Linked DNA regions of Homo sapiens. The protein of the gene in region 2 interacts with the protein of the main gene of each other region in a pairwise test. Each region holds a gene or a part of one and is shown on either strand. Other genes may lie near its edges.

Region 1 (7,023 bases), on a different chromosome or scaffold from region 2:
GTGAGTGGACTGAAAAGAACAAATTCTCCTGTAAAAGCTAGAATCAAACCAAGGTCTCTCAGCCACCCCTGATGGAATTCTGAGAGGGACACAATCCTAGAAAGTTCCAGAATTTGTGATCAATCATTCCAACCAGCCCTGTATGCTGTGACATCACACAGCTCAGAAGCTGGCCCTAGGCCAGGTGCAGTGGCTCACACCTATAATCTCAACACTTTAGGAGGCCAAGGTGAAAAGATCGCTTGAGCCCCAGAGTTAGAGATCAGCCCAGACAATACAGTGAGACTCTATCTCTATAAAATATAAAAATATTAGCTGGGCGACGTGGTGTGCACCTATAGTCCCAGCTACTTAGGGGGCCGAAGCAGGACAGCTTGAGCCCAGGAAGTTGAAGCCGCACAGTGAGCCATGTTTGTGCCACTGCCTCCAGCGTGGGCGACACAGCAAGACCCTGTTTCAAAAAAATAAAAAAACAAGAAGCAGCAGCAGCAGCAGCAGCCCCTGTCAGGAGTCCAGACCTGAGACTCAAGCACCAGCTCCATCCCTCCCTAGTTCAGAAGCCAACTACAACTCCAGTCCTGATGGACTTCTCACCTATTCCAACTTCAGCCTAGCTGGGCCTTAGTGACCTGCCGTATTTCACTCCCTCACTCTCCCTCTAGCTCTGACCCTCTCTTCCTTCCTACTCCGGCCCCACAATCCTCACCTCCCTCTAGGTTCCCATTCCTGCACAGGCTCAGACAGAGGAGCAAGGCGGGAAGGAATCAAACACATAATGCCCCGGGTGCAGAATGGTGAAGAAAATGGAACATCTCACTGTGTGACCTTTAGCAAGTCACCTCCCATCTCTGGGCCTTAGTGTATCTGCTAATGAAATACAATGTTTGGGGCTGGGCGTGGTGGCTCACGCCTGTAATCCCAGCACTTTGGGAGGCCGAGGTGGGCAGATCACCTGAGGTCAGGAGTTTGAGACCAGCGTGACCAATAGGAAGAAACCCCATCTCTACTGAAAATACAAAAAATTAGCCAGGCGTGGTGGTATGTGCCTGTAATTCCAGCTACTTGGGAGGCTGAGACAGGAGAATTGCTTGAGCCTGAGAGGTGGAGGTTGCAGTGAGCCAAGATGGCGCCATTGCATTCCAGCCTGGGCAACAAGAGCGAGACTCTGTCTCAAAAAAAAAAAAAAAAAAAAAAAAATGCTTGGATTAGGTGGCTACTAACATCCCTTACCAATTTAAAGCTCTATTATTCTTTTTTTTTTTTTTTTTTTTTTTTGTGAGACAGTTTCACCCTGTTGCCCAGGCTGGAGTGCGGTGGTGCAGGCTCAGCTCACTGCAACCTCCACCTCACTAGTTCAAGCAATTCTCCTGCCTCAGCCTCCCAAGTAGCTGGAACTACAGGTGCCTGCACCACACCGGGCTAATTTTTGTATTTTTAGTACTGACGGGGTTTCACCTTATTGTCCAGGCTGGTCTCAAACTCCTGACCTTGTGATCCACCCACCTCAGCCTCCCAAAGTGCTGGGATTACAGGCATGAGCCACCGCACCCAGTCAACTCTGTTATTCTTTGGGAGAGGTGGGACAGGATTAGGGGCTAGAGGGAAATGGGGAGTCCAGGTTTCATGCAACTGTGCAGTGTATGCGCATGTTGTTTGTATATTCATTCTGCATTGCTCAATGCCTAGAGGTAACTGCGAGTGGAGCAATATGATTGCATCCAGGTACATGCACATTCCAGGCACCTGTGTGGAAACGTGTGTGTGAGAGAGATGGTGAGGGTTTCTAAATGTGTGATTATACATGGTGGACATGTGTGCATCTATGTGCTGAAAAAGGGAGATTTGTGGGTACATGTGGATGTGAGTGCAGTGTGGGTACATGGGTAGACCCATGTGTGCTGGTGAGGTAGGGGTCACCGATGGGGAGTGGGGCTAAAGTGGGCGTAGTGATGGGCAGATGCTGCTGGGGGTCATACTAGGGAGGTGCCCTCTGGCCAAGGAGCCCTTGCTCTAACCCCTAGGCTTGCCTACTTATTCCTCCTGCCCTATGGTCACTCTCACTCCAGGTGGGGCAGATGGAGTTCAGCCACCCTTGGACTTTGGAGAGCTTTCTTTAAAGGGGCTCAAAACTTGGCCGGGCGCGGTGGCTCACGCCTGTAATCCCAGCACTTTGGGAGGCTGAGGCGGGCGGATCACGAGGTCAGAAGATCGAGACCATCCTGGCTAACACAGAGAAACATCGTCTCTACTAAAAATACAAAAACAAAATTAGCCCATCACGGTGGCAGGCGCCTGTAGTCCCAGCTATCTGGGAGGCTGAGGCGGAAGAATGGTGTGAACCCGGGAGGCGGAGCTTGCAGTGAGCCAAGATTGCGCCACTGCAGTCCAGCCTGGGCGACAGAGCAAGGCTTTGTCTCAAAAAAAAAAAAAATTGTTTCAGGGGGCTCAAAAACCTTCTAAAGAATTCCAGTAAGTGAAATAATAGTTACACTTACATAACTTCCTATGCTTTAAGCACTTTACATGCAGCAATACCTTTTCTCAAACAACCCTCTGATAGTTACTCTATTTTGCAGCTAACCTTTGGCTCAGAGGGACTAAGTAGGGAAGAAAACAAGGAAAAAGAAAGCCAAGCACAGTGGCTCACATCTGTAATCCCAGCACTTTGGGAGGCTGAGGCAGGAGGATTGCTTGAGGCCAAGAGTTTGAGACCAGCCTGGGCAGTATGGTGAGACCCCATCTCTACAAAACTTTTTTTTTAATTAGCAGAGCGTGGAGGCATGTGCCTGTAGTCCCAGCTACTGAGGAGGTTGAGGCAGGAGGATCGCTTCAGCCCAGGAGGTTGAGGCTGCAGTGAGCTATAATCCTGCCACTGCACTCTAGCCTGGGTGATAGAGCAAGACTTCATCACTACAAAAATAAATTTAAAATTAAATAAGAAGGAAAAAAAGAATCTTCACAATTTAGATCTAGAGGAGGGCAGGACTGAGGCCCAGAAACAGGTGAAGAGTTTGGACAAGGTAAGAATAAGACTGGGAACAGGATCAAGGCCCTTCCTTCCTTACTCCAGGCTGGTCTGGTTGATCTCTTACAGCTGAAATCACAGCAGGAAGGACTGCATTTAGACTCCACAAGAGACTTCCAAGGGGTTATGCAGAATGCCACATGCCAATGGTCAAAAACAGGGCCCAATACATCTCAGGACAGGACACACCAACCAGGACCATGCAGCCTCAACCCCATCACATCTACTCTGTGGCAGACCCTGAGGATGGATGAGACCTTCACTGCCCTCCTGGGGCTCAGATAGAGACATGACCACAGCCAAGTTAGCATCTGACATGTTTAAATACAACGGAGTGTGAGGCAGGCATGCAGAGCCAACAGAGGACTCACACCTTATAGTGCCCTTCTGCTGAGAAGCAATGACTGAACTGAGGACAGCCCTCCTCCCTTCAGAAGCCACCCGACTCACAAAGCTTATAAATGGGCTGGGGAATGACTCTCCATAAATGCACTGGGCAGTTTCCTCCCACCCCAGTCTGGAATGTGGCCCATGGCCAGGGGAGCCTCTCAGGGAATTAGTCTCCAAACCACAAACATTGCTTGTGATCCACAGGGCCCTGGCCCAGGAAGAAACTCAAACCTGACCCCAAAGCCCTGGGGATCTTCTGGATTGACATCAGGCAAGTCCAGGTTCGGTATTTGAAAAGGGAAAATGTGAGCAACAGTCCTGAGTGACGCAGGTTGCAGAATGTACATCCTAGATCCTGCCTACAATTCCCACAAAGTTCCCTTGTTGACATGATCATCATAGCAGGAGCTGGAGAAAATTGGGCTTGAATAGCAGAGAATCTCATGATCCCCTAGCAAAATGCAAGGAGCACAGAGCTGGACTAAAGAATCTTGAAAGAATCTTCAGGCAGCTTGTTTGCATTTGCGAGTGTTGGCAGGTCAGTATTTATCAACCAGGGCTGATGTGTGAGCCCAGTGGGGTCATGCCCCCTACCCCTCAGGAGGGTGGCATCCGGCTAGCCAAGTTTCAGTCCCATTCCTCTTGCATGAGACTTTTCTGTTTACACAAGAAGAGGGCCTTTTGGATACCTGTCCTCTGGGCAGGCACCCAGAAGAACACAGCAGACACTCTGGCACTAGAGTGCCTTAAAAAGTAAAGCCCAAGCCTCTGGCCAATGACGCACTTCAGCCCCACCCAGGGACATAGAAAGCAGAAACTATTGTTGCATTGATGATGTAATTTCATGCAATAGAAAGGAATGTGGGCTCACTGTACAGAAGCTTCTCTTGGGTCTGTGTGGCAGGGAAAGAACCCAGAAATCCAGCCTTTATCTAGCCACCCCACTCTATCTTCCGACCACCAAAATCCAATGCCTTGTAAAAACTCGGACCAACTTACACCCTGGATCTGAAGTAGAGACAGAGCTGGAGCCTCCGTCTGATTTCACAGCCCACAATTTCCTCCACCATAGTGTGTTGTTCCTCTGCCCGCCACCAGATCATATTAACACAACTCGGTGGCCCAATTGTGTGTTAAACCAGAACCCAAGCTTGGGCCACCCAATTGTGTTCATCTCTCTCCAGCCCCCATCTGCAAGGGCCACCTGTCTTCAAATGCCCCATCAGGGTGATAGAAGGCACTGGCCCAATCCCCATCTCACCCTTTTCTGTTTCTGCTCGGTTTCCTCGTCTATGGCCCACCTCCCTACCCAGAACCTCATCTCCAGGAATCCTAGAGTGTCTTCCTCACCATCCTGTCCCCTGAACCAAGCACTATGAGGCCATTCAGTAAGTATGTGTAGAGTGAATGGATGGATGGAGAATGGAATTCTCAGCTCTGCTGCCCAGAAGCTATGGGCCCCAGGCTAGACTCTTCTGCATGAATGAACCCTTTCTCTCGCTTTCCCCATGGACTCCGGGCTCCCCATCCTAAAGACTCTGGTTCTATAATATCGAATCATCATATACTTAAGTCACATAGACCCTCACAGCAGGAGGGGAGGAGGTTGCTTCCTGGTACTGTTCTCGCCCTGACCCCTCCACCGCAGCCAGGTTTGTCTGTGCTCTGGGAATGGCCTGGAGAATCCGGGTTTAAACTCCTGGCAGCTCAGACCACTCCACAACTTTTTATTGCAGAGAAGTCCCTGGAAAGAAGGGGTGGGAACAGTTCAGAGGGGCAGGGTTCTTGGTCCAGGTAAGCTGGCCACCTCTACCCAATGGCACCAGCGTCCAGGCCATCTGCACTGGGGATGGTCAGTCATAGTCCTGTAAGCTGTGCTCCAACGCCTCACGTCCCGGTGTGGGAGGCAAAAAGGAAAGATGATGTGGGGTCAGCTCTATGGGAGGGGGCATCTGACACAAGAGGGCTAAGTCTTTAGGGCAGAAGCTGAGGGTTCCTTGTCTTCTCCGGAGGGAGGCGGGAAGGGTTCAACATCTGCGGGAGCTGTGTAGCTAAAGCCCACGGACACAGCCGGGAGAGCCGCAGAGCGCGTAGCCGCCGCCAGGGGCGCTCGTCTCCAGGGCGCCGGAGCCTGCTCGGGGCTGGAGCAGGCAGGCGGAGCCCGGCTGAACGGAGGACGACTGTCCGAGGGAGGAAAGCCCTTCCTCCCCCCACCCCAAGCCCCAGAAGACAGACTTGCAGACATCTCCTCCAGATACACAGACCCTCCTCCCCACCAGGAGACAGATGTACAAACTCCCCGAAAGGAACAGGTAAACAGACCTCTCCCCAGAGAACAGACCACAGGACCCCCTTCCCCACACACGCAAACGCAGTCACCCCCGAGAGAAGAAATAGCCCCCGACAAAAGGAGAGGCACAGAGGGAGCTGTCACAGACACAGGAACAGAAACACAGCCCTTCTGCCTTCTCAAGAGGAGGCACGCCAAGGTGTGGACGGGGAAGGAGGGAATAAGGAGAATAAGATAATAAGATAAGATCCGACCATGCCAGCCTACTGTTTACTTACTGATGCTCCTTGCCCCAAATCCCAGACCAAGCCAGCGGAAAGAAGGAAGCAGGTGAGTCCATCTGTCTACTAGGTTTGGTATTCTGCATTCCCCAGGACACACACTCCTGACCCTCCCAGACAGCAGTCCTTCCACCCTGCAAGCTCCCTGGCGCTCTCTGATCACTCCTGCCTTAAATTCATATAACTCACTTTTGTTGATGACTTTTTGGAGGAAAGAGAAGACCAAAAAAAAAAAAAAAAAAACTACACTTTCTTTGGCCTGACTTGATCTTGGAAGGTGAGACCGTGAGGGAACATTTTAAACCTCTACAGGAGACCCCAGAGCAGGTAGCTCCATAATCTGAAGACTAGTGTGTGTCCCTAAAGCTGTCACTTAACCTCTCTGAAACTTACCCCTCATCTGTAAAATGGGGATAATAGGACCTCCCTGCCAGGGTTTTGTGAGGTGTTAAAGGAGGTGATCAATGCAATATGCCTGTGGCATGGGTGATCAGTTCCCCCTCCCTCCCCTAGCCTGGTGACAGCCCTTGTCTCCTACTGTTGTCTACTGAGTTGAAAGCCAAGCCCCACCTGGTCATGTAACCCCACCTTCCCCAGGCCTGGGGAGAGGGGCAGAGTTGAGAAGAAGGCACTTCACACAGAGACCTTATTCCCACTGGCTAGGCCTTGGTCCCTGCAGCTGTCTCCATGGACAAACCGGCCCCTGGTCTCTGATACTGGGGTGGATGACTATGGGTCACCCCGTCCCAGGTGCCAAAAGTACACATCAGCTAGAACTTTTTGTTCAAAGGGCTGTAAGATGGTGAGAGAAACCTAGCTCTAGAGGAACGAGTTCCTGGATACCTAGGTCATCTCTCTCCACCCTTCCCTGGCTGATGAGCGTGGTGCTGCCCTGTGCCCCTGCACTCCTCACTGCAGCCACATCTGAAGCACTTCCCAGCTGACCCATCATCCACTCTCTTCACCCTCCAGCAGCTTGTGGCAGGCAGCAATCTCAAAGTCCAGGCCCCACTTGACGATCACAGCTCTCAGTACTC
Region 2 (7,913 bases):
GCCCTGGCCGCCTCCTTCCTTCCCGTTGCCTTCAGCCACCTCAGCAACGGCATCCTTGACATCAGTAAAGATGAAGGGGAAGGTGATGGAGGCCTCTTTAGTGGCCACAGGGCCATCGGTGGGCTCCGAGAGGGTGTTGGTGAAGATGCTGGTGAGGGAGGAGGGGAAGGTGAGGGAGCCCTCCCCGCTGGCCGAGAGGCCCACACAGTAGAACACGGTTGGCGTGTGTTTCCCCACAGGGACGAGGCCATTGTTGAGGGAGATGGGGCCCCAGCCCTGGGCCACGCCAACCGGGCTGCAGAGGGAGCCCCGGCCTTTGAAGAGGAAGCCCTTGAGCTCGAAGGTCTGGATGCTGCTGCCGAGGAGGCCGGGGCCGTGGAAGAGGGGGTCTCCAATGGCCACCGGGAAGCCTTTGCCCCCAGGCATGGCCACTGAATCCCCAGACAGGAAGATGGAGCCCTGGCCGATGACCAGGGCCTCACAGCTGCCAGTCACAGGGAGAGAGGCCCCCGCAGGGGGGGCAGGGCCCTCAGCGATGGGCACCTGGTCATTGCTGGTACCCACAAGGGAGAAGGGGATGGCGATGACAACGCCACCCTTGCCAAGGTCGTCGCCAGGGGTGGACAGCGGTTTGCCCCTGGAGACGGTGCCAGTGCCACCCCAGGCCGTGGCGGGGAAGTTGCCTTTTGTGGCGTTGGCGCTCCAGGCGGGGTCTGGGGCCTTCTGGAGGAAGCAGACCCCCAGCTCACAGGCCTCACAGCAGCCCTCATAGGCCTCCCTGGGGTGCCGGGCTGGGCCGGGGCCATCCCCGTAGCAGTCCTGCAGGATGTGCAAGACCAGCCTGCTGAGGAAGGGCTGCTCGCCCGGGGGCCTCACCTGGCAGTCCCCGGGTGCGGGGCACAGCCTGCACCGCTGGCCCCAGATGCGCATCTTCACCAGCCCCCGGTGGCTGGCCCTGTCCCACCACAGGTGGAAGAGGACGTGCACATGGGCCGAGTCCCAGGTCCCCGGACAGTGACCGCACTGGAGCCTGCGGCGGGGAAAGAAGTGTGTGTGAGTGCAGGAGAAAGAGGCCCCACGCCCAGCCCTCGCACTCTGCTCTGCGGCCTCCTTGCCCATCCGACCCCAGCGCCTCGCTGCCCCCTGCCTCACATCCCACACTCAAACCTCAAACCTCACCCCCCAGCCACCCAGGGCCGCGGCCAAGGCAGCCTAGCACCTGCTCCTGCCTGTGCCGAGGCTCTGAAACCACCAGCCCCTCGGCCACACACAGGCAAAAGCAGGCCCATGCGCACTAGCCCGCAGCCCCCTCATGTGGAGCACTGAGAAGCAAAGCAAACCTCCTCTCAGCAGTTTTTCAACAAAACCCGCTCCAGCCTGGCCTCCGTGAGGCGTCGGCAGCCTGCCACCTGCGTGGCTCTGCTGGTGTTTTGTGAGTTGGGGTTAACACAGGAAGAGGCAGGCCTGCCGACACACTTAGGAGGGGAAAAGCATGCATGTGGGGGCTGTCCCTGGGGGCTCAGCAAGTGGGGGTCCCTGTCCTGACTGAGAGGAGGCGATCCAGGAGGTCGCCTGCCAGCTGAGGGGAAGGATGTCACGGAGGCCTGCGGTCATGGCCCGGGCAGCCCTGCTGGGCGTCACCAGGCGAGGAGAGGTTTGGGGAGAGCACTGGGAGGGATTGGCTTGTCCATGGCGGTCATCAGACCGGTGACCATTTGCTAGCCACACAAGCAGCTGTGAGCTTCAGGGAACCCTGCATGAGTGAGAGGCTATGATTCAGTTCCAGGCAGTGGAAGTTTCTGGATGACAGAATGTTCTATAGCCACACTGCCCTGCCTGCAGCCTCCAACCACACTGGCCACAGAGCCCGTGGACACGTTCGTGCTGGAGGAACTGAACTGCTGACTTTATTTAAATGGGACTGAGGAGCCAAAGCCACGGGCGCTGGGGCTGCATGTTGGGGCAGCCGTCCTCAGTTCTCTCCCGCCAGCTGGGAGCCGCTCAGAGCCATCTCCACCTGGCTGTGGGAACAGTGATGTGCTTCCCAGCACTTCTCAGACCCCAACACGGGTTATTACTTTCCCAGCTTCTGAAAAAGCTGGGATTCTGCACACACCTGGCCCCAGGGGTCTCAGGCACTGAGGAGCTGTGTCAAAGGGCAGGACGACTCCCCCTTTGCCCAGGGTGTCTCCACAGAGGGACGGACCAGCCAGCAGCCTGGGGGCCTGTCAGGCCGGGCATCTGCGAGGATGTGGAGCTGCCCCGCGCCCCTCCCAGCTGGCACCCGGCCGAGCTGTGGATGCCTTGCCAGTTGGAGAAGCGCATGGCGCCCGCCCTGCTGCGCTGACGGCACCACAACCGTGATGACGGCCTGTGAGGCTCACTTGTGACCCACAGCCACCCCGGGCCCCCGATCAGGGCCGAGCACCCCGCTGTGTGCAACACAGGGCCGGATGGTGACCACAGGCTCCGGCACGCCCCAGGGCCCACCTGTCAGCACTGATGGCTGCGAGACCACGGCAGTGCCATGGAAGCAGGAGATGAGCCTGTGTCCAAGGGCAGCGCTGGCCCAAGGAGCCGAGTGAGGGAAACCAAACTCTCCATGAGGCACCCGCCATGTCTTCCCCGGGACCCCTGCGTCAGCAGCCGTGTGCCCAGCATGGCGAGGCAGGGGCTCCGGCGGGAGAAGGAGCACCCAGCCCCACCCTCCCGTCTCGGGGACAAGACGAGGCCCAACAGCCCCACCCAGCCTCTGGGACCACCCAAGGTCCCGTGGAAAAGCACCTTCAGCCCCCTGCCTCTCCCAGGGTCCCCAACCTCTGGCCGCACCTCGAGAGCCCCACCAGCAGGTACTGGACACCACCGCCGTCCAGGCATCCCGGGACCAGGCTGTGCTCAGGTAGCAGAACCCAGACGTCCTGGGGCTTCCTCTCGGCCATGGCCAGGGTGAAGGTGCTGGCCCACATGTCTGCCCCAGCCCGGTCCATGCTGCCGCCTGGCTCCGCAGTGTGGGCTGAGGGCTGCGCCCGCCGGGGGCCCAAGGAAACGTCCCCGCATCCCGCGCCGGCCAATCAGCCACCTTGACAACAGCATGGTCTCCATGGCAACCAGATTTGTCTCCGAGAAATGGGAAGCAGAAAGGAAAAATACAATACAATGCAATCTCCCATGACCCCGCCCCCCAGAGAGCATCCCTGTGGCAGCACCGTGGTGGTGGTGGTGGGCGTGGGCCCGTGGACACGCAGGGGCCTCCCCAGACCCGTGCGTGTAGAGGCCCGGGTGTTTTCACACATCGCACCAAGGAATCATCCACAGCCCTCTCTTTCTAGTGCACATCAGGAGCGGTGGCCCACACTCATCCCTTGCTGAACACTTGGTATTTTTCCAGCTTGTGGCTATCATGTAACTTATTCACTCAGCTTCTCTCTGCAAACAGCACTAATGCTTTTCACACAAACAAAGCTGAGAAGAACTTTATAGAACGTGTATCATTGCAGATTGTCCCGTGGGTGTATTCTCTTAAACTTTTTACTAGTGAGAAATATAAAATATTTACATAAAATGCCTAAAACATAAATGCAGAGCTTCACAAATTATTCTAAAGTCTTAAGTCACCACGTCCTATAGGAAGAAACAAAACCTCGCTCTGCCAGCCTCCAGAGCTGGCTGCCTGTTCCCTCCCGATCTCAGCCCGCGGCCCCACCCCCACCCCCTGCCCTCCTGGCAGAGGTGCCACCAGCCTGGCCGTGCCTGCACAGACAACGTTGAGGCTTCAACACCTATGATGCCTCCCTCACCGAGCCCTTTAGCTGTGCAGCTTCTGAGCTTTACATAAACAATTCATGCATGTGCCCAGCTTCTCACGCCTTTTCAGGTTGTTTAATTTCTGAGATTCAACAGCATTGCTGTGCGTGGCAGCCACCTGTCATGGCACAACAAGAAAGGGTGAGCTGAGAAGGAGCCGGGACGTGCAGGGGCGGAGACAGCCAGCTGATCCCTGCAAAACCTCAGCACAGATCTGCCCCCGGGAGGCTCCCGGCCACCCGGCTCTCCTCACAGCTCCCATCTCGCCATCTCTCTGCCCTGCACACTGAACAATCTCTTCTCATTTTTCTACCACTTCACACATTATCTCCTCGTCTCTGTCGACTCTGCAGCTAATGCTGGCAAGCGCCTTGTCATAGTTTTCATTTCTGAACCTTCTTTTCGGCCCTTTCAAACCTGTGACATCTTCCCGCCTTGCAGCTAGGTGTGACTGCAAGATAGAAGAGGAAGCCAGTGGGACGCACTCTGGGAAGGGGCCTCCATACAGGGCCAGACTGCCAGGGAAAGCCCCGCGTTTCTCATCCCAGCTTCATTTTCTTCTATCCATCAGTGCTGGGATGATGGCCGCACTCCAGCCTGTCTTAGACCTGCCTCAAGCACAGAGCTGTGAGCCCAAGGAGCAGGAAGGCGGGAGCCCGGGGCTGTGGTGACAGATGGAGTCGTCACACCACTGGAGGGTCGCCCACCTCTGGGTTTCCTGTTCACACGAGAAGTAAGCCAGCTGCCACTGTGGTCTCGAGGCACTGTTCTCTGGCACTGTGGATGATCACACAGCTAGCCGGAGCAATCCTAACTCACTCGCCGGGCTGTATCTAAGGTCCTGGGGTTTGCTGGTTGGCTCCGGGCCACTGTGCGTGTGTGGGCCCCTTGTGGTCCTGGTCGTGTGCCCCCGCAGGGGTCTAAGAGACACCTACTGTCCACTTGCCTCCAAAAGCCTCGGTCCACAGGGGTCCCTGCAGAGGACCTCCTCCCACCACAGCCCCCCAGAGCCAGTGTTTCCTGGCTGCTTCCGTGCCACGCTGGGGCCACAGCCCTGCCTGCCAGTCCCACCTCTCAGGCTCCTCAGCCCTGGAGGCCACACCTGGCTCTGAGTTTAGGGAAAAGCTTTGGAATGATGACTGACCACAGTCACCCAAAATAACCTTTTGGATGGCAATTCCGGCCCTTATGAAATGCAGGGAGCTGGTTGCCCGGGCATTATTCGCTCAAGAATTGTTGAGTTTTCCTTAGACCCATCCCAGAACACCTCCAGAGGCCTGGGCGGCAGACAGCAGAGAGGGCATCCTGTCCACGCCTCTGTCTGACTGCCCATTTGTCTGTCTCCCAAACCCACAAGCCACGCCCTGCAAGAGCTGCTTACGTGGCCCCCTCACAAATCAGCCAGCCATGAGCACCCCCTCTTCTTCGGCGGGGATGGATGAGGCAGGTTGTGCACAGCACCCACGGGTCCCTGCAACATGTGGCAGGGTCCTCCTTGGGCCTTCTGCATCAGCGCCCACCTGGAGCCGGCCACTGGAGCCTCTCTCCAGGCATGTGTGGTCCCTCCAAGGACAGGCCCTAGGACCCAGGCCTGGGGCAGACGCCTTCTGACCCCGCTCCCTGCCCAGCCTCCCCGAAGGCTGGCTCCAGGACAGGGTGAGATGGGGGTGGGAGATTGGGCCACAGGGAAAAGAAACGATCAGGGGAAGCCGGGTGCCCCTTCAGCACTGCTGCCCACCTGGTGTGGTGGCTTAGCGCTCCCTCTCCCCGCAGACACGCGCTCCTTCTGGGGCCCCTTCCTCACACGCTGGTACCCGTCTTCCTGAGCTCAGCTTCTGGGGAGGGCAGCTGGCAGGCCGGGGACAGCCCTCCCTTGGGAAGCAGAACTTGCAGCTCAGGTGAGTCCCACCACAGTCTCCTGCCAGAACGGATGCACTGCCTGGGCCTGGAGGAGCAGAGGCAGCAGCTCCCGGCGAGGGAGGAGCAAACGCCAAGGCCCGGTGGGGCCAGAGGACCGGTCGGCTGACGGGATGGTGGTCCTTGCTCAGAGGGAGAAAGAGACGGGCAGGAAAAGGAGCCGAGCAGAGAACGGTGGCCGTTCGCAGGTGCTGGGGCTCACCCTCCCCCCACAGACCTCAGCTGGGGCTCACCCTCCCAACACAGACCTCAGCTCGTGGCTGCAGCGGCAGGGACAAGGCCGCCTCCCAGACCCCAGGCCCTGCAGTCCCACAGGCCCCACCGGCAAGGGGTTGTTCCTGGCCCAAGGCTCCGTGTGGCTCTGCCCCAGCGCTGCCCAGGCGGGCAGGGATCCCAGGACCGGCAGCTGGTGGGGGGACGCAGCCTCTGTCCAGCCATTCTGTTGCTGAAAGCGCTTCCACTGTCCAAGAGGCCCCTTGCTCTCCCCTCCAACCCGCAGTCCTGCTGGGGCTGGGGAGGCCATTCCGAAGGAGGAATGCAAGGGACCTCCTGCACTCGCCCTCGGAGCATCCCTCCCTGGGGGACCGCTCACTCACGCTGCTCATCCCCCGCAGCTCAGCATCCCCCGCAGCTCAGCATCCCCCGCAGCTCAGCATCCCCCGCAGCTCAGCATCCCCCGCAGCTCAGCATCCCCCGCAGCTCAGCATCCCCCCGCAGCTCAGCATCCCGCGCAGCTCAGCATCCCGCGCAGCTCAGCCCGGGTTCTTCGGCTTTGGAGCCCAGCAGGGGGACCAGCAGGGGGACCAGCAAGGGGCCTGAGTGACACCCACTGCCCTGGAGTGAGAAGGCAGGGGCGCCACACACACACAGGACACCACACACCACACACCACACACACCACACACACTACACATACCACACACACACTACACACACCACACACACCACACAAACACCACACATGCCACACACGCCACACACACCACACACTACAAGCCACACACACCACACACTACACACACTACACATACCACACACACTACACACACCATACACTACACACACCAGACACACTACACACACCACACCACACACACCAAACACACACATCACACAAACCATACACAACACGCACTACACACACACACTCTACACACACCACACACAGCACACACACCATACCACATACACCACACACACTACACACACCACACGCACCCACACACACCACACACTACACACACCACACAACCAAACACCACACATGCCACACATGCCACACAAACCACACACTACACCAGACACCACACACACCACACAACCAAACACCACAAGACACATATGCCACACACACCACACACTACACACCACACACTACACACACCACACACTACATACACTACACACATCACACACTACACACACCACACACTACACACACCACACATAAACGCACATTACACACACCACACACACACACTACACACACCACACTTACAACACACACCACCCTACACACACATCACACAAACCATACACAACACACACTACACACACAACACACTCTACACACACCACACACAGCACACACACCATACCACATACACCACACACACTACACACACACCCACACATCACACACACTACACACACACAACACATTACACACACCACACACAGTACACACACCACACACACTACACACACCACACACAAACGCACACTACACACACCACACAACCAAACACCACACACACCACACACTACACCACACACCACACACTACACATACCACAAACACACACTACACACACCACAGAAACACCACACATTACCGCACACACCACACACACTACACATACCACACACAAACACACACGCCAAACACGCCACACACAGTACACACACCACACACACTACACAACCAAACACCACACACACACTACACACACGACACACACCACACACACGACACACACCACACACTACATAAAAACACTACACACACCACACACACCAAACACCACACATGCCACACACACACCACACACACTACACTACACACCACACACACTACACCCACCACACACACAACACACCACACACACCACACACTACACCACACAACACACACAACACATACTACACACACCACACACACACTACACCCACCACACACCACGTACACACTA
Region 3 (7,023 bases), about 140 Mb from region 2:
ACTGTGCTAGGTGTTTTAAATTATCTCACTTACTTGGGTGTTCTTCCCGATTACAGATGGGAAGAATCAGAGAGGCTGAGTAGCCTGCATAAATAAAAAGCCTTTTGTTCATTTATGGTATTACATTGCTGGAACCTTAAAATCAGGAAGTGTAGGAAACCACGTGCTTTTCCTACACAGGCTGCTTGCTGCCTGAAAGCAAGGATTGCAATTTAGAAATCCTTAGAATCTCTTCTGTCTCAAAGCCCTTAACAGTACTATGCATACCATAAATAAATGTTCAAGATATGTTTGTGGACTGACATGAAATGATAAAATAGTATAGGTGGATTGATTATTATAATAGGTATAGTGTTACCTACATACCACTCAAACCATTAATGGGAACATCCTCCCTCAATTTTAGATAATATTTTACCTAATAGACATATCTAAAATCCTCAGTAAAGCTGCCTGTTTATTCCTGAGTTGCCACACATGCACCACACTTATTGGAGTCATCTGATGTCATGTACATGTGCCTGGTCAAATGATTGCTAACAGAGAAGTGTGAGGAGAACCATCTGCCTTGTGGTCCTAAAAAAAATAGATGGTCCCATAACAGGGTAACCAATTCTGATCTGCTACATAATCAGGTGGAACCTCTTTTGTCAGAGGTTTATAACTGGAAACCCCACCACTTTCAATTAATTATAAGCGAGGTCAAATTGATTTTAGCCCTTTGTCCATCATCCAGTTAGGAAGATTCTGCTTGTCTAGAGTGGCAGAGTTGCAAAACAAAAGGGGCATATTCTCCAGGCATCTTTCTGAACATTCTAAATATGTAGTTAACCCACCATTGTCAAAACTAAAATATACTATGTATTAAAGAAAGCTTTGATTCACCTGTCGTTCTGAGTATACCAACTTCTAAATTAACTCTAGTGAAAACTAAGTATCATGAGCAAAAAGAAAAAAAAAATACATACTTCAGACTTTAATATATTCTTCAGCTTGTTAACCTCCAAATTAGTATCTTGAACCTTCTGTTTTATGTCATTAAGTTCATTATGAGTGTCATTCAATTTTTTGGACAGTGCCTACGAAAAAAAGATAGGTATATTTGACTATGAAAAATAAAAAATTTCTATATCTCAAAAATACCATAAACAAATTTTTAAACACTTGGAACAAATAAAATTAACATACCTAATATATAAACTCATATAAAAAAAGAAAACACATAAGCCCAATAGCAAGTGGGCAAATGACCCAAATAAGCAATTCAAAAAAGGAAGCATAAGTAGGTAAGACCTGAAAAAAACTCTACTAGCAACTGAAGATATGCTAATTAAAACAACACATTACTATTCTGCTTATCAAATTAATAAAGATTTAAAGCTATTCAGCTATGGTAAAGAATGGGCATTTCCATGTACTACTGGAGTAAATGTAGATTTGCAGAAAGCAAATCTGTGATCAGGAATCTGGTGATGTATCAAGAGACAATTTTTAAATGCTCATAAAAACAAGAAAGACAAAAATGTTGATTATTTTTGAAGGTGGGAAATGGCACATGGGGATTCATTATATTTGAAAATGTCTATTTACATTTTTTTAATTTAAAAAAGAAACCTCAGCTGGGTGTTTTTCCTGTAATCCTGGCACTTTGGGAGGATCACTTGAGCCTAAGAGTTTGAGACCAGCCTGAACAACATAGTGGGAACCCAACTCTACAATAAATAAATAAATAAATAAATAAATAATAATTAAAAAGAAACCTGATAATCTGTGATTCACTCTGAAATGAAATCTAATAAAATTTAATGAGATGCTGTCATTAAGGCATTTGTTACAGTGACAATATTTATTCACATTAAGTGAATCATGCAGTAAATAATAGTATATCTACATAGTGGCATAACCACATAATGGAATATTACATACCTGTGAGAAATGTTTGGAATGATTTTTAATAATACAGGGAAATATTTGCCTATGTTAAGTGAAAAAAAAATCGTGCTAAAACACAAAAATACCTCATTATCCCAATTTGTTAAAAATTGTGGTATCAAGGATAAATTTTTTTTAAGTTTCCACTTTCTCGTCTTCTGCAATACTGGTTCTTAACCTGTGGTCCACAGAGAGAGACCTCTCTTCTACCTTGGGCCTATGACCATAACGAAGAAAAAACTACTTTTGAGCATATGTAAATTGTTATGACAACAGTTTTCTTCTGATTATAAAAAATGTTTACAAAGTTTGAACAAGGCAGGAAAATGCTTACAATATTATAGTAAGCTAATAATAGCTATAAAATATTTATTGAGTGATATACTGGACAGTACAGTAAGTGCTTTCCAGGTATAGTCTCACTTATTAACCATTTTTACAGATGCTACAGAGACTCAGAGAAGTTGGTTTATATGATCACACACGCAGAGAGCAAGATTCAACCCATGTGAATCTTACTCGACTCTACTGCCTCTTCATGTAGAAAAAAGCATGATCTAAAGTGATAGGTGATTTTATCCCACTACATTAGAAAATGTGTATAAAAATAGTGTTAAAATTTTTAAGTGCACTGTATAGCAATTAAAAAAATATGTCAAATATAACAGTAACTGAGTATCAAAAACATGGGGGCTTTTCTAAACTCTTAACTTTTTGTTTAGAAAAAAGACTTTCTATAATAAGCTTCTATTTCTAAACCAATCAAAAAAATAGAAACTAAATTTCTAGGTTTTCATAAATAAGATATATCCACCTTTAGCCCATATGCTCTAGCTGTAAAGAGTACACAAAGGCAAACCTTACAAATTCCCATGTTTTGGTTTTTATTGCTATTCATTAATTTTTTAAATAAACTTTTAGAATAGTTTTAGATTTACAGAAAAGTTGTGAAGACATTATAAAGGGCACCTCTATTGTTAACATTTTACATTAGTATGGTGCATATGTCACAATTAATAAGCCAATATTGACACATTATTATCTGAAGTCCATACTTTATTCAGATTTCTTTCCTTTTTTACATAATGTCCTTTTTCTATTCCAGGATCCCATTATTCATTTACTTTTAAACAAAATACTTTAACATCTCAGATAATTTTTTATGATTAACAAAGTATTACAGCTTTATAGCTGTTTAAGTAAATTAATAATCTTCAACAGTTAAAGAACACAGACTTTCAGGATGCAAACTAAACACACTGAAAGTGATACAAAGTGGGGAAAACCATTTGGTCTTAAAAATTTTGAGAAGGGAAGAAATTTTCCAAATAGGATTTTTAAATGTTCACGTTAAAATAAATGTTATTGGAAATGAGAACTGCAGATTAGACTTAAATATATTGCCTTAGGGAGAAAGAGTAATTATAAGAGGAACTTTCCTAAAAAGAATCACAGTGCTAATGAGAACCAAAAAACAAGGCACAGTCCATACATTCATACTTAAAACAGAATAATATGTAGTCCATTTTTTTAAAAAAAAAACACCTATTCTTTTCTTTAAGGTTTCTCAAGGTTTTTATTCTCATTTTTTGATTATTCAAATATTTATCCTTCAGCAAGGAAGTACTAAGCTTTAATACAAATATAGCCCTGTTCTCTCTTTTCTTTAATATTTAACCCTTTGTGTCTGAGAATTCCATTTAAAAATTATGTGGCCTATTTTGTTATTTTTTAAAAAAAAGAAAAGGCTAGTTCCAGTGTCTGAGCTCTTCTATAAAATAAAATGAGGGCTGTTCCTCACAAGAAATTCATATTTTTTTTTCTTGGAGAAAATGATTCTAGGAACAAGTGTACCTGGTTTTCTTGTTTAGCTTTAGCAAACTGTTCCTGGAGATTGTCATTGTCATGAGCCAAGATATCTCTTTCCCTGGCGATCTGGGCCAGCTCATCATTTGTCTCATCCAATTGCCGACGCATTCTGGAAACGTCTTGTTCACACACAATTAGGGCCTCAGTACACTGTCTATTCCACAAATCAAAGAGTACATAAGAAGAGACATTTTACTGAAACAGAGCAACAAATTCTCACAAGACAGAAGATGGACAGTTAGTATGAAAACATTTGAAGAGATTTTAAACACGTTTGAATTTATAGGAATAAATACTGCAAAGACAGTGCATTAGAGTTTCTCAATGTTGCCATCATTTCGCTATGAAAAGGATACAAAGTATACATAATAGTCAATGATTTGCCAAATATTTCAAAACTTCTTACATCAAGTATTAGGAAGGCTTTCATCCTACTTCTGTTATGGCTTAGTCTCCTTTACAGATTCCTCTTCCTCTGCCCACTTAAAAATTAATGCTTTTCAGGGCTCAAGCCCTAGCCTCCCAATTATTCTCACTCTAACCCTTCTCTCAGACAAACTCTATTCATATCCATGGTTCCCAACCCCATCTAGATCCAATGACTCCAAAATAATTATCTCCAGTTTTAGACCCTCTGTTATACTCCAGACTTATATTTAACTGCTTACTAGACATGTCTACAATAAGGTCCCAAAGGTTCTTCAAATTCAGAGGTAAAATCATTTTTTCTCCTCATACTTTCTTCATGTTCAGTATTTGTCCCTGGCCAGAAACTTGGCATTTTCCTGGTGTCTCTCCCTCATACAAAAGCATTTCACTCCTTCTGTCCCACAACTCCTAAACCCCAATTTATCACCACCTCTTCTGCTTAGGTATCTTTCTAACACAAAATTCTCCTCAGAATTCTTTAATGATTTCTTATTGCCCAAAGGATATAACCAATACTCATTTGTCTGTTACACAAGCCTCTGCCTGCCTATTTAGTCTCCTCCCTTCACTTCTCCCCTTACACTCTAGGTTTCAACAACACTCACCCACTTGTAGGTCAAGAGGCTTGTCAACATGATCTGTGGTTCTTTGCTATTCTTTCTACTTTAAATGCCCTTCCCTTCCCCTTATTTTACTTGGCAAACACCATCCCCTCTTTTAGTTCCTTAGACAGACTTAGGCCTCCTTTGATGAGAGAGTTAGCACCTTACACGTATCATTAAGCCCCTTGTTTCTTACTATCTTTGTACCTAACATGGTACTTGGCCCCCCAGTAAGAGCTCATATATTTGTTGCACGACTGATTTACCTTGATGCCTGTTCCATCTCAGCAATGATATTCTTCATGCCTGAAATGGTCTTTTCCTTGAAAAATAATATAAGTATTAAATAAAAAAATCTTAAGCTGTTATTTCTGTTAAAATTGAATGAACAAAAAGAAAATTTCCCTTTCCCTTTAGGTTTCCATTTGGTTTTAAAAACATGTATGTCCTATTCTTTTCCACACTTTAAAGCCTAGTATATCAATGTGAATATTTGCACTGGGTAAAAATAGATTATGTTCATTAAAGTAAAGGCTATACTTAGGTGTAATTATGAGATCAGTATATCAAATTCTTTGTCAAAAGATATTTTATGCAGTCACCCAGCAATACAAGAACCCTATAACCACCTGTTTTTGGAGGCAAACCAATGGTTTGGCATTGGAGTATTGGCATTTTATACTGGGATTTAGAACTGGTTCTCTTGCTCACATTCTTTATGTTATAAAACCCAGAGAAGCCAATCATGTATACCTAAATTTAGTTTTTAAGAATAATTTTGATTAAGTGTATTATTTATATTAGCCAGCAACAAAATCTTCAAAAAGCTGTTCCAATCCAATTACTTATAGAAGTATACTACTGATATTTAGGTGAGAGCTAATAAGAAGGTAAGCATTAGGCCTCGAGCAAAGGTAAGAGAAATAAACTATATTTTCCTTTTTCAAAGGCGTGATGAGGGAGTAGAAGTAGTGGAGTCAGTCAAGGCAGAAATGGGTTTGAATATCTTAATGCCTTTAATACCATTCCCACACCTCTTTTTAAAACTTCCATTGACCCTGAACTAGTCCAACTATAAACAGATACTTAGAGCTAACATTAGCCCTAAAAAAGTAAGAAAGTTATTTCACTAAGTAATAACTAGATTTCACCTTGCCATTTGAATTTTCAAATTTTAAGTAACTAAGTAAAAAGATTTTTAAAAACCCAAACCTATATTTTCCAACCAATTCTGTTCCTGTTTCTTTTCTTTTTTTTTTTTTTTTTTTTTTTTTTTTTGAGATGGAGTTTTGCTCTTGATGCCCCGGCTGGAGTGCGAGGGCGCGATCTCGGCTCACTGCAACCTCCGCCTCCCAGGTTCAAGCGATTCTCCTGCCTCAGCCTCCCAAGTAGCTGGGACTACAGGCATGCGCCACCATGCCCAGCTAATTTTTTGTATACTTAGTAGAGACGGGGTTTCACTATGTTGGCCAGGCTGGTCTCAAACTCCTGACTTCAAGTGATCCACCCACCTCGGCCTCCCAAAGTGCTGGGATTACAGGCGTAAGCCACTGCGCCCGGCCGTTCCTATTTCTTTAGCGTTAGTTTTACACATATTTGCGTGTGTGTGTGTGTGTGTGTGTGTGCTATCTTCCTTTATTCATGTGCTCTTCTCCAGGGTATTTTTAGCTACAGTTTCCCATTCTGCTTTCTCATGGAATGGTACAGATTCCACATCTGGCAGTAATAGATACTGGTGTGTTGTTAAAATATGCATTAAAAAAAAAGTTAAACCCCTTCAAGAAGGACAAGCCAACGAAGGAAAAACTAAAAGACAAAATACTCCATAAAATGGAATGTTTACACATTTTTGAAATATAATTTAATACATTTCTAAACAAATTCTGAAAAGCTAGTTGAACTAGTGCTTTTGAAAGTCTTTACTTGAGGCCGAATGCGGTGGCTTATGCCTGTAATCCCAGCACTTTGAGAGGGTGAGGCAGGCGGAACACGAGGTCAGGAGTTTGAGACCAGCCTGACCAACATGGTGAAACCCCATCTCTACTGAAAATACAAAAATTAGCCGGGTGCAGTGGTGGGCGCCTATAATCCCAGCTACTCAGGAGACTGAGGCAGGGAATCACTTGAACTCGGGTGGCGAGGGTTGCAGTGGGCTGAGATTGTGTCACTGCACTCCAACCTGGGTGACAGA

The links.
Region 1: the proteins of RTP5 (region 2) and KRT86 interact in binary tests that used the Homo sapiens proteins (3 or more experiments, as listed by UniProt).
Region 3: the proteins of RTP5 (region 2) and TSGA10 interact in binary tests that used the Homo sapiens proteins (3 or more experiments, as listed by UniProt).

Annotation. Positions count from the first base shown.
Region 1 is NC_000012.12:52,277,645-52,284,667, reverse strand, and holds part of KRT86 (keratin, type II cuticular Hb6), read right to left. Parts: intron 5,728-7,023; exon of another isoform or gene 5,512-5,727; intron 1-5,511.
Region 2 is NC_000002.12:241,864,831-241,872,743, reverse strand, and holds the start of RTP5 (receptor-transporting protein 5), read right to left. Parts: upstream 3,016-7,913; 5' UTR 2,988-3,015; coding exon 2,830-2,987; intron 1,031-2,829; coding exon 1-1,030.
Region 3 is NC_000002.12:99,067,920-99,074,942, forward strand, and holds part of TSGA10 (testis-specific gene 10 protein), read right to left. Parts: intron 5,155-7,023; coding exon 5,099-5,154; intron 3,956-5,098; coding exon 3,787-3,955; intron 1,080-3,786; coding exon 969-1,079; intron 1-968. UniProt on the Homo sapiens protein: Plays a role in spermatogenesis. When overexpressed, prevents nuclear localization of HIF1A.